Linked DNA regions of Homo sapiens. The protein of the gene in region 2 purifies or fractionates together with the protein of the main gene of each other region. This does not show direct contact. Each region holds a gene or a part of one and is shown on either strand. Other genes may lie near its edges.

Evidence for each region. Proteins that work in one complex are often made in the same cells at the same time.
Region 1: the proteins of ZP3 (region 2) and SERPINB8 purify together in Homo sapiens (affinity purification with mass spectrometry; one large-scale study listed by BioGRID and IntAct). This does not show direct contact.

Annotation. Positions count from the first base shown.
Region 1 is NC_000018.10:63,976,581-63,980,161, reverse strand, and holds part of SERPINB8 (serpin B8), read right to left. Parts: intron 1,864-3,581; 5' UTR 1,854-1,863; coding exon 1,686-1,853; intron 362-1,685; coding exon 224-361; intron 1-223. UniProt on the Homo sapiens protein: Has an important role in epithelial desmosome-mediated cell-cell adhesion.
Region 2 is NC_000007.14:76,437,498-76,442,664, forward strand, and holds the end of ZP3 (zona pellucida sperm-binding protein 3 isoform 1 precursor), read left to right. Parts: intron 1-2,752; coding exon 2,753-2,844; intron 2,845-2,977; coding exon 2,978-3,114; intron 3,115-4,344; coding exon 4,345-4,559; 3' UTR 4,560-4,572; downstream 4,573-5,167. UniProt on the Homo sapiens protein: Component of the zona pellucida, an extracellular matrix surrounding oocytes which mediates sperm binding, induction of the acrosome reaction and prevents post-fertilization polyspermy.

The sequences.
Region 1 (3,581 bases), on a different chromosome or scaffold from region 2:
CGTGCAGGAGAATTGACATATTGGGATTGATAACAGGGATGGGTGTATCAGTAACAATTTACAAAGGACGTAATTCAGAAGTCATCATAAAATCTAAAATTGTAATTTCAGAAGTGTAATTCCAAGCACGTTTTAAGTCAGTACAGTTATACTTTATTATCTGCTCTTCTGTAGTCTAACTTACTTTCAATTTCTTTGTCATCAATATGTGAATACTACTTACTGGAAGGAAATCACACGTCTTTTCTCCAAAGAGTCTGTTGGCAGTTCTAAGCAAGTACTGAGTGCCAGTTCTGTTAACTTCACTGAGAAGTGACTGGAAACCTCGGTGAATATCTCCGTCTTTGTATAAACAAAGTGCCTGGGAACAGAAACCAACACTGACTTTTAACGCTGCCATTATACTCTCCCAAAGAGCTTTCTCCAAACAAACCTCTGTACTAAAAAAACCACACAGGATCCTACTTTAAAAAGGTTTGGCCTAATTGTCTAGCACAGGGTTTCTCAACGTGGGCAATGCAGCATTGACATTTGGGGCCAGGACACTTCCTTGTCTCATATAAGCATTGTAGGATTTTTGCAGCACTTCTGGCTTCCATCCACTAGATGTCAGTAGCACCTCTCAGTTATGGGATCTAAAACTCCAGGTCTTCGCAAGGGTCCCCAGGAAGGAAAAATTCACCCACCGACCCCTACCTCCCACCCACCAGGTGAGAACCACTAGTCTAGCAAATTTATTCATGCCAGCAAGGCAGTGTGCGATAATTCAGGGGGAAGGCAGAACAGAAAAAAGTAAGTAACTGGGATGAATTACAACTCGGGTAATACAAACAAAAGCAGCAATAAAACTAAAAATGTTTCATCTGCAATTTTACAGAAGTTCTCCAGACCATATTATAAATTAAATGTCAAGTCAGAGTGAGAATTAAGGTTATTCCTATATCTCTCGATCACCCCCAGTCCAAAGCCTCACTCCTCCAATCAGTTGAAAGAAACAACCACAGAAGGATGTCAACTGGGGTCCCTGGGTGCATTTTAGGAGACTGTCTATACACTCCTGATATTGGTGGCAAAATGATATCCATTTGGCAATTATCTGGGACATCTTCACCAATAGTCAGAGAACTGTTCCTAAAGCATTATCCCACACCTCGTTTGTAGATAAGGTCATACATCACCATTTTGAATCAAACAGATTATATATTCCTCAAATCACTCCAGAAGATATAAGTCCACACTTGTGTTACATTCCTCTTCTAGGATGCATAATCATGCACTAAAATAACCCACTTAACAAAAAGTTAATCTACGCACCCACATGTCTATTAAAAATATAATGTTAGCAAAAGTTTAAAATGTAACAAAATTGGAATATTTTGCTTTCTTGTGGGACAGAATTATACTTTATCCTACTTATCAAAGATGTGAATTTGCCAGACTGTATTGATGATCTGATCTAGAGAAAATAACTCTATGGCTTGACTTCTCCCATAAACATCAGAGGAGATGATCTGTCCAACACATTTCACCTTTCTACCCCTTTCTGCTCTTCTCCACTGCCGAGCTGCTCCTCCTTCTACCTCCAGCTCCACAGGCCTCAGCTAGAGCAAAAGTACAGAAAGACAGCTGTATGGAAGCACAAGGGAAACACACTGTTCTCCTTCCTTTGTGACAAGCACACATACCTGGGACATCTGGGCTGCAGTGCTTCCCTTTGCCCCCATGAAGACCATGGCCAGGGCAGAGGAGATGCTCATGGGAGAGAAGAATACGTTTCTTGAGTTGTCCTCTTCCCCCAATATTTTAAATAAGCTGATGGCAAAAGTGCCATTTGCTTCACAGAGGTCATCCATCAGAGAAGGTCTGCATCAAAGGCACAGCAGGGAAAAGCACATAAGCCAATGACTCCGGTAGCCACGCAGTCATTCATCCCCCAGTCAGTGGACGCTGAGGTGGTAGGTGGAAGAACCACCCTCCAAAGACTTCCACTCCTAATTCCCAAAACCTGTGACTACATGATCTGCCCTGGCAATAAGGACTTTGCAAATGGTATTCAGTTAAGTATTTTGAGATCTGAGATTATCCTGAGTTATCCCAGTGGGCTTAATGGAATCACGAGCGTCCTTAAAAGAGAGAGGCAGGAGGGGCAGAGTCAGAGACAGAGACATGAGGACGGAAGCAGAGGTCAGAGGGATAGGGGCCACTGATGAAGGAATGCAACCTCCTCGAGAAGCCAGAAAAGGCAAGGAACAGATTTTCTTCTAGAGACTCCAGAAAATAACATTGCTATGCTGTACCATTTTGGACTTAGGACTTCCAGAACCATAAGATAATAAATGTGTGTCATTTTTCAGCCACTAAATTTGTGGTAAAGTGTTATCACACCAATAGGAAACAAAAACACTGGTTTATTCATAAAATAGCCAATCTCAGGGCCTATGACTTGTATCCCTCTTAGCAACAGGGGCACAGACACCCTGCAACACCTGCTTACTTCCTCCCTTGGTATAGCAGCAGCCAAAAGGTCTTTGTGCGGACGGGTGTGGTGCCTCACACCTGTAATCCCAGCACTTTGGAAAGCCAAGGCAGGCAGATCACTTGAGGTCAGCAGTTCGAGACCAGCCTGGCCAACAAGGTGAAACCCCATCTCTATTGAAAATTCAAAAATTATCCAGGCATGGTGGCGGGCACCTGTAATCCCAGCTACTTGGAAGGCTGAGGCAGGAGAATCACTTGAGCCCCAGGAGGTGGAGGCTGCAGAGAGCCGAGATCACGCCACTGCACTCCAGCCTGGGCAACAGAGTGAGACTCCATCTCAGGAAAAAAAAAAAAAGATCTTGGTGCCAGGCACTGTTTTCAGCACTTTCCATTATCACCCAATAACACATTGAGGTCAGTATAGTTATTGCCCCACTTTAGAGATGAGAAGACTGAGTGAGGTTTAGTAACTCATTCCAGAACCCTCAGGTAGTCATAAACGCCTGGCACCCACAGTTTGATTCCAGAGCCTGAATTCTTAATCATTACACAAAATCCCCCTATTGCTGCTAATTATCTTTCAGTTTAATGTCTCCAATATAATCTATAAAGAATGTTCTAAAACTTATATATGTAATTCTTTATCAATAAAAACTGTATTTCTGTCATCACTTCCTGTGAAAACAGCTAGATACATTTCACCAAATTTGGAGGGTTTGTTTGAGATAGGCTGGCCTGAAATATGAGGCTACTGGAAAGACAAAAAAAAAAAAAATTACTTTTTAAAGTGACTCCAAAAAGATGCCCCATTTTCCCCAAGAGTTGCTGAAACTGGGTTACGGAGTTGCAAAGAAAGTCCATAGGCATGGATATAAAATATGAAGCCCTAATCTTGTCATCGAGGGAGCACTTTTAATTAGATGCATTGATTTTTGGATCCTCCTGGCTAAGAGGGTCTTAACATTCCCCTCAGCTTGAATTAACTTTAGACAACCTAAACTTGACTAAATAAACAAACTAAACAGGCTTCCTCCTGCCTCTAGGCCCTTTCTTCCTTTTTCTTAAAGCATTTTATTTAGAGAACTTGTCATTGTAAATTCTTT
Region 2 (5,167 bases):
GGGGGGAAATGGAGTGTCACTCTTGTTGCCCAGGCTAGAGTGCAATGGCGTAATCTCAGCTCACTGCAACTTCCCATCTCCCAGGTTCAAGCAATTCTTCCATTCCAGCCTCCCAAGTAGCTGGGATTATAGGCACCTGCCACCATGCCCAGCTAATTTCTGTATTTTTTTTTTTTTTTTTAGTAGAGATGGGGTTTCACCATGTTGGCCAGGCTGGTCTCAAACTCCTGACCTCAGGTGATCCACTGACCTCAGCCTCCCAAAGTGCTGGGATTACAGGCATGAGCCACCACGCCCAGCCTAGACCCTGCTTCTAAAAGGCCGCTATAGGGGAACTGCCCTGGGATCTTAGACTCCAGTTAGCACCAGAAAAACATACTAGGAAAAAGCTAAGGATGAAAGTACATTTCCTTTGTGGAATAGACAACAGGGCCTTGGAAGCTTCTTACTTGCAGGGCAGGTGGCTAAGATGGGCAGCTGGACAACTGCTAAACTGGCTTGTTTCTAAAAGTCTGAATTTACATGGTTTCAAGTTTCTCTGCTGGTGTACTTGGCCACTAGGTGGTGACTGAGGCTTGTGGCTCTGAGGCTTCTGCTGGAAGGTGGCAGAATTGCCATGCTCTGCCCGAGGTTGAGCAGGGAGGAATTTTAGCCCTGCCTGAAATATGAAGGGAAACTGACCTGGGGACGGGCCAAGGCTAGACTGAGCCCTGGCTCTGTCAGAATGGCCCCTAGCCCCAGCAGCAGGATGGAATGTCAGTCTAAAATGAGAAGGCTTGGCCAGGTACGGTGGCTCATGCCAATAATCCCAGCACTTTGTGAGGCCAAGGCAGGTGGATCACTTGAGGCCAGGAGTTCAAGACAAGCCTGGCCAACATGGGGAAACCCCATCTCTACTACAAATACAAAAACTAGCCTGGTGTGGTGGTGGGTACCCGTAATCCCATCTACTTGGGAGGCTGAGGCAAGAGAATCGCTTAAACCTCGGAGGTAGTGGCTACAGTGTACTCCAGCCTGGACTAGAGACAGACTCCGTCTCAGAAAAAAAAAAAAAAAAAAAGGGTAGCGGGGCAGTGCTTACAGGGTAGTTGACTATTCCCTGGGTGGTGGGGGGTCTTTCAGCTCCCAGCAGGAGCTCATATTGGGTTCATTCCCTCGTACTTGTCTAACGAGGGTGGGTAAACGTTTCCCAGAGGCCAGGACTGTCAGGGTATCAGCCTGGTGAGTCTTCTGGTCGTCATATCCCTTACAGGTGAAGGGAGACTGACGTAGGCTTGACTAATAGCAGAGGTATGTGCAAGGAAGAAAAGCCCAGGGAAGCTTGCCCAAAGAGTGAGCCATCAAACTCAAGTCTGGCCGGGCGCAGTGGCTCACGCCTGTAATCCCAGCACTTTGGGAGGCCAAGGCAGGTGGATCACAAGGTCAGGAGTTCAAGACCAGCCTGGCCAAGATGGTGAAACCCTGTCTCTACTAAAAATACAAAAAAATTAGCGAGGCATTATGGCAAGTGCCTGTAATCCCAGCTACTTGGGAGGCTGAGGCAGGAGAATTGCTTGAACCTAGGAGGCAGAGGTTGCAGTGAGCTGAGATCGTGCCATTGCACTCCAGCCTAGGCAACAGCAAGACTCCACCTCAAAAAAAAAAAAAAAAAAAACCTCTTAAGTCTGAAATGGAAACTCCACAGAAGCAAGTCCAAAAGGCTTCTTTATGTGCCCAAGGACCTCAGGTCCCAGAAACAACTTGGTCTTGCCTTAGCTGGCAATACAGTGACTACATCCCTGAAGAAAAGTAGCTTGTCAACTAGTCAAGTGGCAGGTGGCAGCGTCAGAAGCCCAGCTAAGCTGCTAGCTATTAAGGTGTCTACCACTCACCTCGGTCACCTGGGGATGGGCGCGGGTTTAGCAATGCTGAGTTAAGCCCAGGACTGGCCAGGCACGGATAGCTGGCACCTGTAATCCCAGTACTTTGGGAGGCTGAGGCGGACAGATCACTTGAGCCCAGGAGTTTGAGGCCAGCTTGGGCAACATGGCAAAACCTCATCTCTGCAAAAAATCCAAAATTAGCCAGGTGTAGTGGCTTGTACCCGTAATTCCAGCTGCTCATGAGGCTGAGGTGGGAGGATCCCTTGAGCCCAGGAGGTCAAGGCTATAGTGAGGCATCATCATACCACTGTACTCCAGCCTGGGTGACAGGCCCTGTCTCAGAAGCCCAGGGTCAAGCATGCTCAATGATTGGGTAAGTTTGGAAAAGATCAGGGGAATAAGTGGTGGATTCCAGTCTAAAACTAGTTGCTACTTGCTCTAACATTGGGTAAGTGAACCTTTACACCATCTTAGAGATGAGGCTCTTCCTTCCCCCTGTTTATTTTATGAGACAGTCTCACTCTGTCAGCCAGGCTGGGGTGCAGTGGCATGATCTCGGCTCACTGCAACTTCTGCCTCCCAGGTTCCAGTGATTCTCCTGCCTCAGCCTTCCAGGTAGCTGGGACTACAGGTACCCACCACCACGCCCAGCTAACTTTGTATTTTTAGTAGCGATGGGGTTTCACCATGTTGGCCAGGTTGGTCTCGAACTCCTGACCTCAGGTGATCTACCCGCCTTGGGCTCCCAAAGTGCTGGGATTATAGGTGTGTGCCAATGCACCCGGCCCCTTCTCACTCTTTAAAGGGTTGAGGGTTATAAGAGAACTGGTGTGTTAAACTCCCAGGCACAGCCTGGAACTCGGCCTGGAAATAGCTGTTATTCCTTGCAGATATACATCACCTGCCACCTGAAGGTCACCCTAGCTGAGCAGGACCCAGATGAACTCAACAAGGCCTGTTCCTTCAGCAAGCCTTCCAACAGGTGAGGAGGACAGGTGCTCCGTGACTGGAGTAGAAACTGAATCGGCGACCCCTTGTCTATTTCCCCCAATATATTATCAGCAAACTGCTTCCTGCAGGCAACAAAAATCTAAGCTGCTTCTCTTTCATCTCAGCTGGTTCCCAGTGGAAGGCTCGGCTGACATCTGTCAATGCTGTAACAAAGGTGACTGTGGCACTCCAAGCCATTCCAGGAGGCAGCCTCATGTCATGAGCCAGTGGTCCAGGTCTGCTTCCCGTAACCGCAGGCATGGTATGTCACAGAATGGCCAAGAGGCTGTTCATTGTCCCTTACTCAGTTGAGGGTACCTGCTGTCATTTCAGGGTGATGGTATTTTCCCTTGTCCTCCATTAAAACTGTTTGTACCTAGGCCTGCAGCTACCTTTCCCTAACACAAATCTTGGGGTTAAGCAGGAGGGGCTCTCAGCCTTCCACCTCGGTGGCAGCCAGGGAGATCTGCTGTCATCCTAGGCTTCTACTGAGACATAATTAGGCATGTAGGGGAAATATAGCAGTTGTTAAGATAATCTGGCTTGGCATAGTGGCTCAGGCCTGTAATCCCAGCACTTCGGGAGGCCAAGGCGGGCAGGTCACCTGAGGTCAGGAGTTCGAGACCAGCCTGACCAACATGGAGAAACCCCATCTCTACTAAAAATAAAAAATTAGCTGGGCGTGGTGGTACATGCCTGTAATCCCAGCTACTTGGGAGGCTGAGGCAGGAGAATCACTTGAATCTGGGAGGCAGAGGTTGCAGTGAGCCGAGATTGCACCATTGTACTCCAGCCTGGGCAACAAGAGTAAAACTGTCTCTCAAAAAAAAAATAATAATCTGGCCAGAACAGTGGGTTGTGCCTATAATCCTAGCACTTGGGGAGGCTGAGGCCAGGGAAATCGCTTGAGCCCCATGAGTTCTCGACCAGCCTGGGCAACATAGCAAGACCCTGTCTCTACAAAAAAGATGATGTACTAGGGAATCCCTCTTGGGTGACCTGCTTTCTCCGTATGAGAAAGCTGTCTTTTTCTTTTTTCTTCCCCCTCCCCTGCACCAAGATGGTGTCTAGCTCTGTCCTCCAGGCTGGAGAGCAATGGCACGATCTCTGCTCACTGAAACCTCTACCTCCCAGGTTCAAGCTATTCTCCTGCCTCAGCCTCCCAAGTAGCTGAGACTACAGGCATGTGCCACCATGCCCAGTTAACTTTTTTATTTTCAGTAGAGACGGGTCTTGCCGTGTTGGCCAGGCTGGTCTCAAACACCTGACCTCAGGTGATCTGCCTGCCTCAGCCTCCCAAAGTGCTGGGATTACAGGCATTAGCCATCACACCTGGCCGAGAAAGCTGTGTTTTTTTTGTCTAGAAACTGTTTATTAGCCCACACAAAAAAGACAACATATTAGTTTAGCCCACTGAGGCAGAATAAAACCTCCAACCCAGTTCCCGGTTAGGGACTAAGATAACCCTTGGTTGTGTGTTCTCCTTTCACAGTGACAGAAGAAGCAGATGTCACCGTGGGGCCACTGATCTTCCTGGACAGGAGGGGTGACCATGAAGTAGAGCAGTGGGCTTTGCCTTCTGACACCTCAGTGGTGCTGCTGGGCGTAGGCCTGGCTGTGGTGGTGTCCCTGACTCTGACTGCTGTTATCCTGGTTCTCACCAGGAGGTGTCGCACTGCCTCCCACCCTGTGTCTGCTTCCGAATAAAAGAAGAAAGCAATATCTGGTCGTGGTGTGGTGGTCAGATGGAAGGTCAGAATTAGTACTGACTGTGTCGGGTGGGGACGACTGTATACCACCCGCCCCGTGCACTCACATAGCATAGTCCAGCAAGCACTACTGTGTCTCTACTGTAAACAGGGCAGGGTTCATGTCCTTAGACAACTATAATCTATCACCTCCATGGGAACCAACATGGAAACTCTTAGATGAAGGTCAGTCTGGCTGGACCCACCTTACTTCTAGGCTAGCAAAGAATCTTATATCTCTGGCCCCCATGGATTTGACTCTAGACATGGGAGTGGGGAGGAGAGAGCTTCCAGGCCCACTTCTCCAAGGCAAGCAGGCAGGCAGCTCTGTCCAGATGCTAGAGGCCAGAAGGCCAGTCATGACTGGGCCCTCCCAGTAGGGCAGTGATCAGAGCACTGCTTCTGCCTGGTCTTAGCTGTCACCTTGGGCTTGAAGCTATTCTTGGGACATGTTGGTATGAACTTGTCAAAGCTGCAGCAAGGGGTGACTGGCACTCCAAGCCATTCCAGGAGGCAGCCTAATGTCATAAGCCGGTGGTCCTGAGGTGGCTCTGAGGTGGGTACTTT